Linked DNA regions of Homo sapiens. The protein of the gene in region 3 purifies or fractionates together with the protein of the main gene of each other region. This does not show direct contact. Each region holds a gene or a part of one and is shown on either strand. Other genes may lie near its edges.

Region 1 (3,500 bases), on a different chromosome or scaffold from region 3:
CCTTTGGGAGTTGGAAAAAAAAAGAAAAAAAGAGCCACCAATGTCCTCTACTGAAAGATCCCCAGGACAGATCCAGAGGGCTCAACACCTTCCCTCCTGCCACATTCCTTCTGGTTTTCCCACCGAATTCCTCTCAATACCTCCAACGTCCTGTAATATGGGTCCAGTAATATTTTGGCCAGGGCTACGATCTGCGGTGTGCGGTCCCAGCCATCTGAGCAGTGTACCAGCACAGGCCGGCCTTCCCGGTCTACTGTATTAGCCACCAGCACAGCTGCTTTTAGCATCACCGACAAGTGCTGCAGCCATTTGGTACTCTCCAGTGCCGACAACCAGCTACACAAAAGCAGACATCAAGTCGGTCACAAAGGGTGCTGAGGCCACAGCAGTCTCTCCACCATCCACAGCCAGCCCCACCCAACAAAGTCCCCATTGAGAACTGAAACCAAGAGGTACAACCCAGGGCCTTTTGGACAAGAGGTATCTAGCAGGAAGGTAGGGAAGACAGGACCTACAGCAGATAAAAGCATCTGAAGCTCAAAAGAGGAACTGAGAAGCATCACATGCACACTCAGCCATTTCCTCTCCCCAGTTCTCTGTGTTCTTTGAGTAGAACAACTGATCCAAACGAAAGGAATCCATGTCCTGTGACCACGCCAAAGTGTTGGCTGAGAAGTGGAAGGGTTCTTGGAACTAGCCCACGGCACCCAACTCCACCCAGGCCCTCAGGTCTCCTGCTCTCCAAACTTCTCATCTCCCCATCTAATCTTCCAAGAATAAGAGGTACTGGGTAAGGAATGAGACTGGAAGGAATCCAAGTAGGGAACACCTACTTGCTAGGATCCGGCATCTGGCTACACACAGCCCGGAGGTACTGAAAGCTGTTCCGGATGGCATGGATGTTGGCCATTCCCATGAACACGACCTCACAGTTGGGATAGTACTCTGTAGACATGACAGGAGAGTGGGACATAAAAGCACGTCCTAGGCCGGGCGCGGTGGCTCACACCTGTAATCCCAGCACTTTGGGAGGCTGAAGCGGTTGGATCACCTGAGGTCAGGAGTTCAAGAACAGCCTGACTAACACAGTGAAACCCCATCTCTACTAAAAATATAAAAATTAGCTGGCCATAGTGGTAGGCACTTGTAATCCCAGCTACTCGGGAGACTGAGGCAGGAGAATTGCTTGAACCTGGGAGATGGAGGTTGCAGTGAGCTGAGATGGCACATTGCACTCCAGCCTGGGCGACAGAGCGAGACTCCGTCTCAAAACAAACAAACAAACAAAAAAAGCACGTCCTGGAAACAGGCATCCAGGACAAGAGTGGTCCTGGTGGACAAAGCTTTCCTGGCAGGGCAGAGCACTCCAGGATAGGAACTAAATACAGTCTTGAAATCTGAATCACACTTGTATCTCTGGAGACTCAGGTGCCATATATTAATAATAGTAACAGTAATGACAAATGATAGCAGTACTTAGAAAGACAATATATAATCAATTCTCAATAAATAGTAGCTGCTCTGTGGCAATAATTTTATATATACAACTTCTTTTTCTTTTTTAAGACAGGGTCTCATGGTCACCCAGGCTAGAGGTGCAGTGGCATGATATCAGCTCACTGCAACCTCTGCGTCCCAGATGCAAGCGATTCTCATGCCTCAGCCTCCCAAGTGGCTGGGATGGGGCCACAGGCATGCACCATCATGCCCAGCTAATGGTTTGTATTTTTGATAGAGGCAGGGTTTCACCATGTTGCCCAGGCTGGTCTCAAACTCCTGAGCTCAAGCCATCCGCCTGCCTCTGCCTCCCAAAGTACTGGGATTACAGGCATGAGCCACTGGGCCCAGCCTACATATGCAACTTCTAATCATCCCAACAATTTTGCAAAGTGTGTAACATCCCCTTCTTATAGAAGAGAAAATAAAGCTTGGACAGATTAAGCAACTTCAGCATAGTCATAGCCATAGCTAGTAGGTAGCAAAGTTGTGATTACAAGCCAGGTTTGTTTGGGCTCTTTCCACTATACAAATGGCCCCCAACCCCCTCCTCACCAAAGCCACCCAGAGCACAGGCTGGCTGCAGACACTGGGATAACAGCAATACCTTCACATTCACAGCCTCCACCCTTGGCCCGGTTGGCCACTGCTGCCGTGTAGGATCGCGCATCCAGGATCAGCAGCTTTTGAGGAGCTGCTGTGCTCTCCACTCCAGAGCACGCAGTCAGAGAAGAATCTAAACACACAGCAGGAAGGAGTCCCTGAGTCAGCCAGCCACCCAACCTCTTGCTGGCCCTCTGGCACTCCCTCTCAGAAGGCAGAACATGCAACTAGAGACCCCTCATACCCCACAGCTTCTGACAAGGCAGGGACCCCAGCACCCCGTGTGTTGTCATCTTCCCAGACTCTCACTGGGGACTCCCTGGGAGCCAATGAAGCCAAGGAGGGGGCCTGCTCCCTGGGGGGTTAGCATCATCCACACCTTACCAAAGTCAGCATCACACGCCTCGCTGGTATCATTATTCCCGGTGCTGAGGGAGCCCCCAGTGGCCCTTGTCCCCGGGTCCAGGGCACAGGCTTTAGCAATGGACGTGACCAGGTACTCATCATCAGCATTGCGCCAGCCCCACCAGCTGATCTCTGGCTGGCTGCAGCGGGCGATGGCAGCCCCATTGCGCAAGTGTCTGACAAAACAGAAGAAACCGTAATGCCCTTGGCATTCGAAGCCTCCAGAGGCCTACCTCAGGGGGTTAGACCAAAGTCTCTAGAGCCAGCAGGGGCTACCAACTCATCCAGGCCATAACAGCAACCAAAAGCCCCAACGTCACTAGCAGGCTTCACCGTTTACAAAGCACCATCACACATACTTTCTCAAATGGGCTCTGTATGTCCAAGGTGACCTTGACTCATCAAATCTGCACAGCAACTGCTCCAGGTACAGACACCCAGCAGGAGAACAAGGCCTGGCTGAGCCAAGAATAGGAACAATTCCAAACTTCAGGGTTACTTCCTGTCTCACTCTATTTTAGCTACAATATTCTAGTGCAGGGATCAGCAAACATTTTCAGTAAAAAACCAGACAACAATTTTTGGCCTTGTGGGTCACAACCAGTTTCTGTCATGTATTCTTCTTTGCTTTTTTTAAAAATAGCCCTTTAAAAATGTAAAAACCACTCACAGCTTACAAGCCGTTTTATATAATAGGCTATAAGCCAGATTTTGTCTGCAGGCCAGTTTGCCAACCCCTGTACTAATGTGTGTATAAAATAATGTACTATTTTATACACACACACACACACACACACACACACACACACACTCTAAAAAAAGGGGGGGAATGAATAAACTCCCTAATAGCCTTATTCTTAGGAGAAAAAACTAAGATAGTTTTTGTTTTAAAGTTATTTCATACTTCCCCATAGAGTGTCAATTCTCAGTCAACCAGGTTACCCAAAATCTCCAATTTTGACTCTTTCCTTGTTGCATAAGAAATGGCCTCCCTA
Region 2 (3,500 bases), on a different chromosome or scaffold from region 3:
TGGGCCATAGGAGGAGCATGGTCCCCCCATGGCCACTCAGCCCCCAGCTCCAGCGGGTGCTCTACTCCACCACCCCAAACAGCCTGCAGCGTGGGCACCCACAAGCTCTGGAGCAGCAGGACCTGGGCGAGGCCCCTCTGTAGGCTCTGGAGGCAGGGCTGGGCCGGGCCTGGACAGGAGGTGCTAGTTGGGGCTGACAGGCTCAGCAGCTCCTGGACAGGCTGCGGTGGGATGGCCTACAGCCCTACACCAGGAGGGTTTGCTGCTGAAGGAAGGGCCCCCTCCCCCCAGCTCCCCCAAGTCCAGGGTGGGAGGAAGTACAAGGGATATGGTGGGAAGGTGAGGGGCCTCCCCCTGGGGTAAAAGTGGGGAGATGAGCGCACGGACTCTCAAGGCAACAACCAGCCCGGGAGGAAAGGAGAGGGGGGCAGGGATTCCAGCCCTGAAATGGCCTCGGGAGGGAGGAGGGCAGCTGTGTGGTGTCCACGGTCCAGGTCCCCCTGAGCCTCCGCCATCAAGGTCACCATGGCTCTCCTGAGAATGAGGGGCCGTGGTCCCCTCCCTTTAACTCCACAATGCTGACCTGAGGATAAAGGCTCCAGACCATCCTGGGAACTCTGGGGGTCCCAGTCTTGGAGTCACGGACTGGGACAACAAACAAAACCCCTAAGAACAGATGGGGCTCATGTGTTTAAAACGCCACGTCCACTTCATTCCACAGCTTGTTTCTGAACTGCTCACCACGATGTAACCCAGTCAGGGGGTCAGCCCCTCCCTCACAAGGTACAGGGGACAGAGCCAGCCCGGAGGAGCCTCCCCAGTCTGGCCACAAAGGGCTCAGCAGAGTCCCCAACACACACACAGCACAGCACTGCTGGCTGTCGGGGGCCTGCACCCAGGAAGGATGCTCACAGCCTAACCAGCACCCCCCGGGCGAGCCATTGAGACTGGCTGGATCTGCTTTGGGGAAAGCAGGCGGGACTGGAGGGGAGCCGGGTCCTGGCTGACCAGGCGGAGGTGAGGATTGTCGGCTCACCTGAGGCTGCTCCATTCAGCCTCCCTCTTGGCAGCCTGCCCCATGCAGCGTCAGCTAAGCCTGATGGCCTCGGCTTCCTCTCACCCTTGAGAACTCACCAGGTGCCCAAGAGACCTCAACCCCCTCCAATGCACTCCCCACCGGCCGCCCTGGCTGCTGTGGACAGTGCTCACACCTCGCACAGTGGGCACTGAGTCAGGGCGGGGATGGAAGGCACACTGGGCCCCATCATGAAGCTGGGGACCTTTTCCTCCTGAGGGGCCCTGGTTTAGGCTGAGTGAGACTCTCCCGGTGGGTGCTAACAGGTGGGTGCAAGGGTACACATGTAACCCCAGAGGAAGCCCAGGGCCAGGCGGCCTCTGCACCCACAGGCCTCCACACCAGCCCCGGGCACAGCAGGCCACCAGGAAGGGGGGGCCCATCCTAAGCCGTGGAGACCACACCCTTTACAGTGCCCAGTTATGAACCCCACTCTGGGCAACCGTGTCTACGGGAAGCCTGTGCCCGCTCCACGCCAAGGACAGACCCAGGAAGCCAGAGCTGGAGGCACAGGAAATCTCTGCAGCTCCGAAAGGGGCCAGGATGGGGGTCAGGACGGCCCTTCCTGAGCCACCTGGGGGCCACAGGCAGATCTGATAGCTTCTCCTCACAGTGGGGATGAGGACAATGATAGGGCGGTGGGTGGCCACCTCTCTAACACCAGAGACCACGCAGAGCTCTGCAGAGACAGCATCTGGAACACCAGGTCAGCACGGGCCACAAGAGTCCAGCGCAATGTGGTGGGAGCCGCAGGGGCCCAGCACCCCTGCGGGAACTGCATGAGCACCTGCCTCTAACCCCCCATGGCCAAACCCACCCCAACAAAGCACAGGTGGAGGGAGGGGAGCATGCGCCATCCGAACAGACACCATCACACAGAGGCGGCGGCCGCCTTTCCAGCAGAGCCTCGTAACGAGGCCACAGCCAGGCCTGTGAGGCCGGGGCGTGCACGTGGCCAGCCCTGCACACACCACACATGCACACGGACCATGGGCCCCGGGGAGGGCCATGAGCTCCACCCTGAGGACTTAGAGGAACTCATGACCTTGTGGCTGAGGAGGAGACCAACGATGTCGAGGACACCCCGGGGGCTGGTGCTGCCCTCCCACGGTCCCCAGAGTGCAGGTCTGTGTGGCTGGGGATCCCTGGCAGGGACAGGAGCGCAGGAGCTGGGTCCTCAGCTATGGGCAGGGGGCCGCCTGGTGCTGGGCTACTCCGCCAGGCAGTGCAGGAGGAGGGCTCCCAAAATAGCACCCTGGGCCTTGGGGCTCAAAGCACACCCCCCGGCTGCACCTGCCGCCACCGTGCACGCGGTCACTCAGAGACGGGGAGTATGCTAAAGCAGCAAAGCATGCAGTGCCACAGGAGGGGCTGCGCCACGCTGCGGGGTCGCCACTGGATGTGGAGGGGAGCAGAGCAGCAAGACCCTGGGCACCGTCCACGAGGATGGTGGGTGATGCATGGGCGCCGGGGGAAAGAAAGGAAGCCTCTCTGCGCAGAGCACACAGTCCCAGAGAGAAGCAGACACAGAACAGAGACGCCTCACCTTTGTCTACTACATCCCAGACTTCAACCTTCACGATGTCATCCGTGGCTGAAACAGGGAGAATCCTAAAATTAGTGCCCAACATGAAGTTCCCAAGGTGGCACAAAGCGGTCCAGCTGGTGTGGTTGTCTGTGCCCCGCAGCCACCGGCTCCCACCAGGACTTCCGAGTGTCCAGAAGCAGGGGATGTGTCCTCCCCAGACGACCACATGGCGGCTCCTTCAGGCCTTCGCTCAGACACAGCTTCAGTGACAAACTGAATGCACGGTATCTCCCTCCGCAGCCCCAATCCTGGGCACGGCCCCTCCCTCCCGGGCCCCGATCCTGGGCACGGCCCCTCCCTCCAGGGCCCCGATCCTGGGCACGGCCCCTCCCTCCCCGGCCCCGATCCTGGGCACGGCCCCTCCCTCCCGGGCCCCGATCCTGGGCACGGCCCCTCCTGGCCTCAGCATACTGGAAGGGGACCCTCCTGGCTGGGTCGATGTCTGTGTTTTTGCCCATGGAGTACGCTTCTGCTGACAGGTGCGAATGAATGGGCCCGCCTGTGTCACCTTCTGACCCTGTTTCTTCATCCAGTGACTGGCCTCTAGTTCACTTTGAGGGAGCAGAATCTAAGTAATCACTGAGGGCGGAGGCCGGACCCTCCCTTCGGAGCCACCTGAGAGGCCCCAGGCCTGCCTCACACCGCACCATCGCAGCTGGGCCTGCTGGTGCCAACCACTCCTCCTGAGCTCCCATGACTGTGCTCTGTTGTGGGGCGTGCTGGGGACTGGGGGAGCTGATGGATGGAGCCTCCCGCCCACCCAAGGATTCCAAGGGGAAGGGAGAACCAGAGGGGAGAGGCACGCCCGGGGCCCTCACACAGCCAGGCATCTGCCCC
Region 3 (3,500 bases):
AGTGATCCTCAAGGTAGAGCAAGGACAAGAGCCATGGATGGTGGAGGGAGCGAATCCACACGAGAGCTCTCCAGGTGAGTGAGAGAAATTCAGATGGGGCTGTGTGGAGTTGAGATCCCCATTGGTCAGTGAGGGACAGGAAGTTCTGAAATACTCTTAGAAGCACCTCTTAAAAGCCACACACCTTTAACATAACATCATCAGCCAGCTCCCCAAAAGCTGCCTTCACCCTCATTCTCCCCACACGTGCCCTTTCTCTTTGCTCAGCTGTTGTATGGAGGGTTGTCCCTCTCCTGTCTCCTCAGGCTTCTCACACTGCCTGTTTCATCTAGGTCCTTGCTTTGTTTATGTTCTCTTAATTCCTAAAACCCTCATTATTCTTCCCTTCTCAACATCGATCTTTTTCTATATACGTAGTCCTTATAATGAAGTTAAATTATCTGAATTTGAGGCGTTACTCTACCAATCACTGTCTAACCTTAAGCAGATTATTTTGTAGCATAATTTTCTTTATTTATAAAATAGGAACATTAATCCTTACCTCAGGTTTCCTGTAAAGATTATATGAGGTAATACATGCAAAACACTTCAAATAGTTGGCAGATAGTAAATGTTCAGTATATGCTAATTATTTTTTTCAAAACTTTTAGGTACATCATGTTCTATTTTATTTTCCTTTTGTTTTTTCTTTAACTTATTCCTTTTCTTGCATCATAAATCCCATCTTGCATCTTTCTTCTCCCTGATAATTTGGGATATGTCTTGTAGCGCAACTTTCTGTTTCACTTGGTAATATTGATAACTTTTTGAAATTCCCCTCCAGCTTTTTGTTGTCTTACTAATCTGTTCTCACCCTTTCTTACTGCTTATTCACCTTTTGCTCAGGCCTTCTCTTCCATCTTCTTGACTTCTCTCTACAATAACTCCCTCAGAAGCCTCATCACTCTGAAAACTAAAGTTACTTGTTTTATGCCAACTCTAGCATCTTTGCCTCACCAACTTTTCATTCCCATAATTTTACTCTACCTGGCCTTCATGGTAACTAATTTTTTTATTTCTTCAATTGTCACCCTTAGCTTTATATCACAATAAATAATAATGAATGGCCCCCTGCTTTGCAGTCTCAAAACCACTGCATTAAGCAATTTGATTTTTTTCCTGTCAATAGTTTCTCCTTAAATATGATACTAACTTATGGCCTATGATTTCAGCGATTAGTTTATTCAAGACTGATTCAAAATTAAATTTTCCCTTTCTGCAGAGTTCACAAAAGAACTCTTTCAAATGATTGACATATCTTTCAAATGATTGACACCAATTAAATATATTTCAGATTCCCTGGGACCCCAACTTCTGTTGACATAAACCAAATGACTTTTTTTTTAGAGACAGGGTCTTACTCCATCACCCAGGCTGGAGTGCAGTGATGCCATCATAGCTCACTGCAGCCTTGAACTCCTGGCCTCAAGCAAGTCTCCTGCCTCAGCTTCCCAAGCAGCTGGGACCACAGGCACATGCCACAGTCCTCAGCTGAATTTTAATTACTGATATTGTATCTAGACTGTTTATGTTACTGTTTTACAAATTACATTCTATTTTCTAGTTTACATTAGATATTTCTACAAGATTTATCCAAATTATTCTATTTCTGTTGTTGCTCTCCTGAAAAATGTAAATTATCCCCTTTATAACCTGTGTTGTGATATTTAAATGGCTTTTAATGTCCTCTATAACATGGTCCCATTTTACTTACCCAGAATTATCCATCTTTTTTTTATTCCATGGAAATTGGCCTTTTTAATGTCCACTATATACAGTTTTCTTTTTTTTTTTTTTTCGAGACAGAGTCTTGCTCTGTTGCCCAGGCTGGAGTGCAGTTGCGAGATCTGGGCTCACTGCAAGCTCCGCCTCCCGGGTTCACGCCATTCTCCTGCCTCAGCCTCCCGAGTAGCTGGGACTACAGGTGCCCACCACCACACCCAGCTAATTTTTGGTACTTTTAGTAGAGACGGGGTTTCACCACGTTAGCCAGGATGGTCTCGGTCTCCTGACCTCATGATCCTCCCGCCTTGGCCTCCCAAAGTGCTGGGATTACAGGCGTGAGCCACCTCGCCCAGCTTATATACCGTTTTCTTCTCTGCATCAATCCTTCTGATTCTGGTCTGTTCCTAAAACCAGCATTTTCTTAAGTCTGATTTCAGCTTTTCCTCTTTCATTGTAACTCCAGTCTAAATTAATCTTCACTTTCTTTGAACTCCCAAGCCAATTCTATTATGACTCTGTCATGAAAAATTTACATATACTGTCTTGGATATATTTTTTTAATGCATGTGGCTTTTAAGGCCTGTTTTCTTTTTCTTTTTTTTTTTATGATAGTGCCTGAAGAGAATGACCTGTTTTATGCAGAGCACATCATGGTATCCAATGAATATTTTATTAATTTATTGTTATAGAGCCAGACATTGTGGGGGATGTTTCTTTTTTTATTTTTCTTTTTTTTCAGTATCCCTGTCATAGCAATGTGGGAGATGTTTCTTATTCTTCCATTCAACAAGGCTTTTAAAAATGTTACCTGAAAAGGTTCAAAGGAAGCAAAAATCTCATTACCATTTTCTAACTTATGAAAGGTAGTTGGAACAGCAAAACATGTTCATATTAAAATATTTTCCCTGGTGGTTTAGTGGTTAGGAAAACAATATATAAATAAAAAGTAAAAGTTTTGTTTTCTTGTTGTTGTTTGTTTGTCTTTTTTTGAGACAGAGTCTCGCTCTGTCGCCAGGCTGGAGTGCAGTGGCGCAATCTCAGCTCGGGTTCAAGTGATTCTCCTACCTCAGCCTCCCGAAGAGCTGGAACTACAGGCGCCCGCCACCATGCCTGGCTAATTTTTGTATTTTTAGTAGAGACACGGTTTCACCATGTTGGCCAGGATGGTCTTGATCTCTTGACCTTGTGAGCCACCCGCCTTGGCCTCCCAAAGTGCTGGGATTACAGGTGTGAGCCACCGTGCCTGGCCCAAAAATAAAGTATTTTAAAATTCAACAAACGAGTATGAAACATTTCTTCAATGCACATTAACATTGCAGTTTTGTTCTAATTAACTGTCAAAATGACAGACAGCAGCAGTGACTATCTTAGAAATTCATAGAAAATGGAGCTTAAAGTTTAAAGTATGCAAAATTTGGAGAAGTCTTTTTTTTGAGGTCATGGAACAGTGGTTCCTCCCTAAAGAGTATCTAAGTTCTAGATAGGACGAGAGGAGATAAGGGGGGGTGCAAATGAAGGTGGACAACGAACATGAGCAAAAGATTGAATTTAGGAATCTAGAATCCATGGAGTAGAAGGTATTTGTTGAGGACTAGTGAAATGCATGCTTCCCATGAGTGAATTCATATCTTGCATAATTTTGTTTGCCAGGCTGATTATGTTGAATTTTTCAGTGGATTATTGTTGGTAGAGGTAATGCAAGATGCTGCTTCCCATCGGTTGAAATAGAGCGGAAA
Region 4 (3,500 bases), about 68 Mb from region 3:
GGCTCACTGCAACCTCTCAGGTTCAAGCAATTCTCCTGCCTCAGCCTGCTGAGTAGCTGGGACTACAGGTGCACGTCACCAGGCCCAGCTAATTTTTGTATTTTTAGTAGAGACAGGGTTTCACCATGTTGGCCAGGCTAGTCTTGACCTCCTGACCAAGTGATCTGCCCACCTCAGCCTCCCAAAATGCTGGGATTACAGGCATGAGCCACCACACCCAACCCACCTGGCTTTATTCTGACTTAGATGCCCAAATGTTAACATTAACTGGGTTATGAAAATTAGGACTGAACTTTTTTACCCACTAACTGGTCAAGGAATCAAAAAACTGTCAGCTAAGAAGTGTCCATTTAATTCCTCTCCAGCGTGGGCCACCTCTAATCACTGCCTCCAACCCACATCCAAGGCAAGATTGCTCTCAATGGATTAGAGTCTTCTTTCATTGTGAATAAATGTGTTAAAATTGTAAAACCCTCCATCCATATAATACCTTATATAAATACATCCAATTCCATCCCAAACTGAACAGAAAGCTGATGATTAAAACACGTCTCAACTGAGTGTACCAACGTACATATGTCCACAGCTCAGTAGCCACTAAAACCACGATGCAGAGCAGACAAAGAAGTACCTTAAAACAGAGAGAAGCAGAAATCAGCCACCAAAAACACTTAAGACAGCTAAAAAGAACTGGACTCAAAAGCACAAAATCATTTCTACAATTTTGTGGCTTGTTCATCAATACGGTATAAGTGACCTAGTACAGGTTCTTAACGTAATTATGGTGGAGTTTGGAAAGTATTTTAAAAAGGAAACTTAATGACGTTGCCCTTGCCCTCATCCCATCTTACCATTAACACATTATATGGATCCACTCCAAAGGAATCTTCGAATCGCCACTTCCATGTTTCAAAATCATGAAACTTAAAATTAATTAAAATATCACTTAGTGCATCATCCAAGGCACCTGGTTTCCAGTCTTCTCCATTGAGAAACTTCTGTATTTCTAACAAAGTTTCTCTTTTAAGGATAATCTCAGCATCATAATGCATATCGCCTTTGTTTTCATCAGGCTAAATTAAATTTACCAAAAAACAAACAATAGAAAGAGAATTTTATTACTACTTGGTGAACCATTTTAAGACAAAAGCCAATTTGGAACTAAATATTAGTTTGCAGTATTTCATATGTATAAGAATAATAGCCTGGGCAAGGTAGCTCACACCTATAATCCTAGTGCTTTGACAGGCCAAGGTGGGAGGATAGCTTGAAGCCAGGACTTCAAGACCAGCCTGGGCAACAAAGCGAGACCCCATCTCTACAAAAAATTCTAACCATTAGCTGTGTGCAGTGGTGTGCACCTGGCTCCTGCCTACTCAGCAGGCTGAGGCAGAAGAATTGTCTGTGCCCCGGATTCGAGGCTGCAGTAAGCTATGAGCATACCACTGCACTCCAGCATGGGAGACAGAGTAAGACCCTGTCTCTAAAAAAAAAAAATAATAATAATATCCACCTGTCTTCACAGGCCAACATGAAAACCAAAGATAATATACATGAAAAACATTTAAAAATTCTAGAACTCTATGTAAAAAAGATACTGTAAATTTCACTAAAATACAGTTGATTCTTGCTATTCGCAGTAGTTATCGTCTTTTTTTTTTTTTAGATGGAGTCTCACTCTGTCGCCCAGGCTGGAGTGCAGTGACGCAATCTCTGCTCACTGCAAGCTCCACCTCCTGGGTTCACGCCATTCTCCTGCCTCAGCCTCCCATGTAGCTGGGACTACAGGTGCCCGCCACTACGCCTGGCTAATTTTTTCTATTTTTAGTAGAGACGGGGTTTCACCGCATTAGCCAGGATGGTCTCGATCTCCTGACCTCATGATCCGCCCGCCATGGCCTCCCAAAGTGCTGGGATTACAGGCGTGAGCCACTGCACCCGGCCTCACAGTAGTTATCTTCTATAAAGTCACCTCAAACACCAATTAGCAAGTACTGAACCATTACTCCTATAATAAATACAGGGTTTGGTTCGTGCAAACCTGTCATAACATTTTTATCAATTGATCAATATATAACCTTGTTTTATGTGTGTTTCTGTACATTCCTGTTTAAGGACACCTTATTTAAAATACATATTGTTCATTCACTAACACTGAACACATGGACAACTGTCCTATACCTTACGCTTGACTGAAGCCTATCTAATACACACCTTTTCCTTTTCTCTGTAAGTACATCGTGGCCTTCTTGCACTTAGAAACACTAGACCTCAGCTCAGCACTACATCAGAGGGCCGTTTTAAACAACGAAATGATGCTGTTTAATGATTGGTCTCAAAATAAAAATAAAAAAAATCACCCCTCTCCCCTCAAAAAAGCACGAAAAAATATACCACTAAATAGACCACAAAAAAAGACACTTGTTTGCAGTACGAGAGCTGAAACAAGAAAACAGTTTTGATTGCCTTGTTCCATCTCAGCTGGGAATGCCTGCAACAGGCAACCCAAATTTTTTACCACTCTTCACTGTGTCCCAGAGTAACCACAGAACACCTCGATTATTGACTTTGGGGTTACACAGACTTAATGAGGTCAATTCATAAATACGGAATCTGTGAAGAATGAGGATCAACTGTGCATCTTCATTTTATGATTCACTGCATGACTTTTCATTTCCTGACAGTTTTCAGATAGCCTAAAATCTGTATTAGTGCAAACAAGAAAAACAAGAAGGATCTCAAAGAGCAACAAAATAATGGGTTTCCATAAATTACATATTTATAACTACCTTTATTAGTGTGAGTTCAGCTTAGCAAAATCACTAAACAAATTTTGCATTAATTAGCCAGTTGATACAAATAAAATTCCTTTTTCTTTTATAAACAGTAAATACAAGGTGGGACATGGTGGCTCACACCTGTAATCCCAGCACTTTGGGAGGCCGAGGCGGTCAGATCACTTGAGGTCAGGAGTTTGAGACCAGCCTGGCTAACATGGTGAAATCCTGTCTCTACTGAAAACACAAAAATATTAGCCAGACGTGGCCGGGCGCGGTGGCTCATGCCTATAATCCCAGCACTTTGGGAGGCATGAGGCAGGCGGATCACGAGGTCAGGAGATCAAGACCATCCTGGCTAACACGGTGAAACCCTGTCTCTACTGAAAATACAAAAAATTAGCCGGGCATGGTGGCGGGTGCCTGTAGTCCCAGCTACTCAGGAGGCTGAGGCAGGAGAATGGTGTAAACCTGGGAGGCGGAGCTTGCAGTGAGCGGAGATTGCGCCACTGCACTCCAGCCTGGGTGACAGAGCAAGACTCTGTCTCAAAAAAAAAAAAAAATCAGAAACTAAATATTTTCCAGCATTTCCATCTTAAGTATTTTTGGTTCCATCTGTTTCCTTATCTAGGTTCTGTTCCACCCTGTACGTAGCTGTAAGGCTCAAATTACAGAGTGTACGTATGAGAACGCATCTGCTTCTACATTTCCAGAATAAGGTGG

The links.
Region 1: the proteins of ZNF684 (region 3) and MTMR4 purify together in Homo sapiens (affinity purification with mass spectrometry; 2 studies listed by BioGRID and IntAct, with this or other methods). This does not show direct contact.
Region 2: the proteins of ZNF684 (region 3) and RABL6 purify together in Homo sapiens (affinity purification with mass spectrometry, with the first as the bait; one large-scale study listed by BioGRID). This does not show direct contact.
Region 4: the proteins of ZNF684 (region 3) and CLCC1 purify together in Homo sapiens (affinity purification with mass spectrometry; one large-scale study listed by BioGRID and IntAct). This does not show direct contact.

What each region holds. Positions count from the first base shown.
Region 1 is NC_000017.11:58,504,639-58,508,138, forward strand, and holds part of MTMR4 (phosphatidylinositol-3,5-bisphosphate 3-phosphatase MTMR4), read right to left. Parts: intron 2,682-3,500; coding exon 2,485-2,681; intron 2,234-2,484; coding exon 2,105-2,233; intron 946-2,104; coding exon 834-945; intron 337-833; coding exon 141-336; intron 1-140. UniProt on the Homo sapiens protein: Lipid phosphatase that specifically dephosphorylates the D-3 position of phosphatidylinositol 3-phosphate and phosphatidylinositol 3,5-bisphosphate, generating phosphatidylinositol and phosphatidylinositol 5-phosphate.
Region 2 is NC_000009.12:136,824,948-136,828,447, reverse strand, and holds part of RABL6 (rab-like protein 6), read right to left. Parts: intron 2,670-3,500; coding exon 2,622-2,669; intron 1-2,621. UniProt on the Homo sapiens protein: May enhance cellular proliferation. May reduce growth inhibitory activity of CDKN2A.
Region 3 is NC_000001.11:40,541,637-40,545,136, forward strand, and holds part of ZNF684 (zinc finger protein 684), read left to right. Parts: coding exon 1-74; intron 75-3,500. UniProt on the Homo sapiens protein: May be involved in transcriptional regulation.
Region 4 is NC_000001.11:108,942,985-108,946,484, forward strand, and holds part of CLCC1 (chloride channel CLIC-like protein 1 isoform 1 precursor), read right to left. Parts: intron 1,074-3,500; coding exon 852-1,073; intron 632-851; coding exon 491-631; intron 1-490. UniProt on the Homo sapiens protein: Anion-selective channel with Ca(2+)-dependent and voltage-independent gating. Permeable to small monovalent anions with selectivity for bromide > chloride > nitrate > fluoride.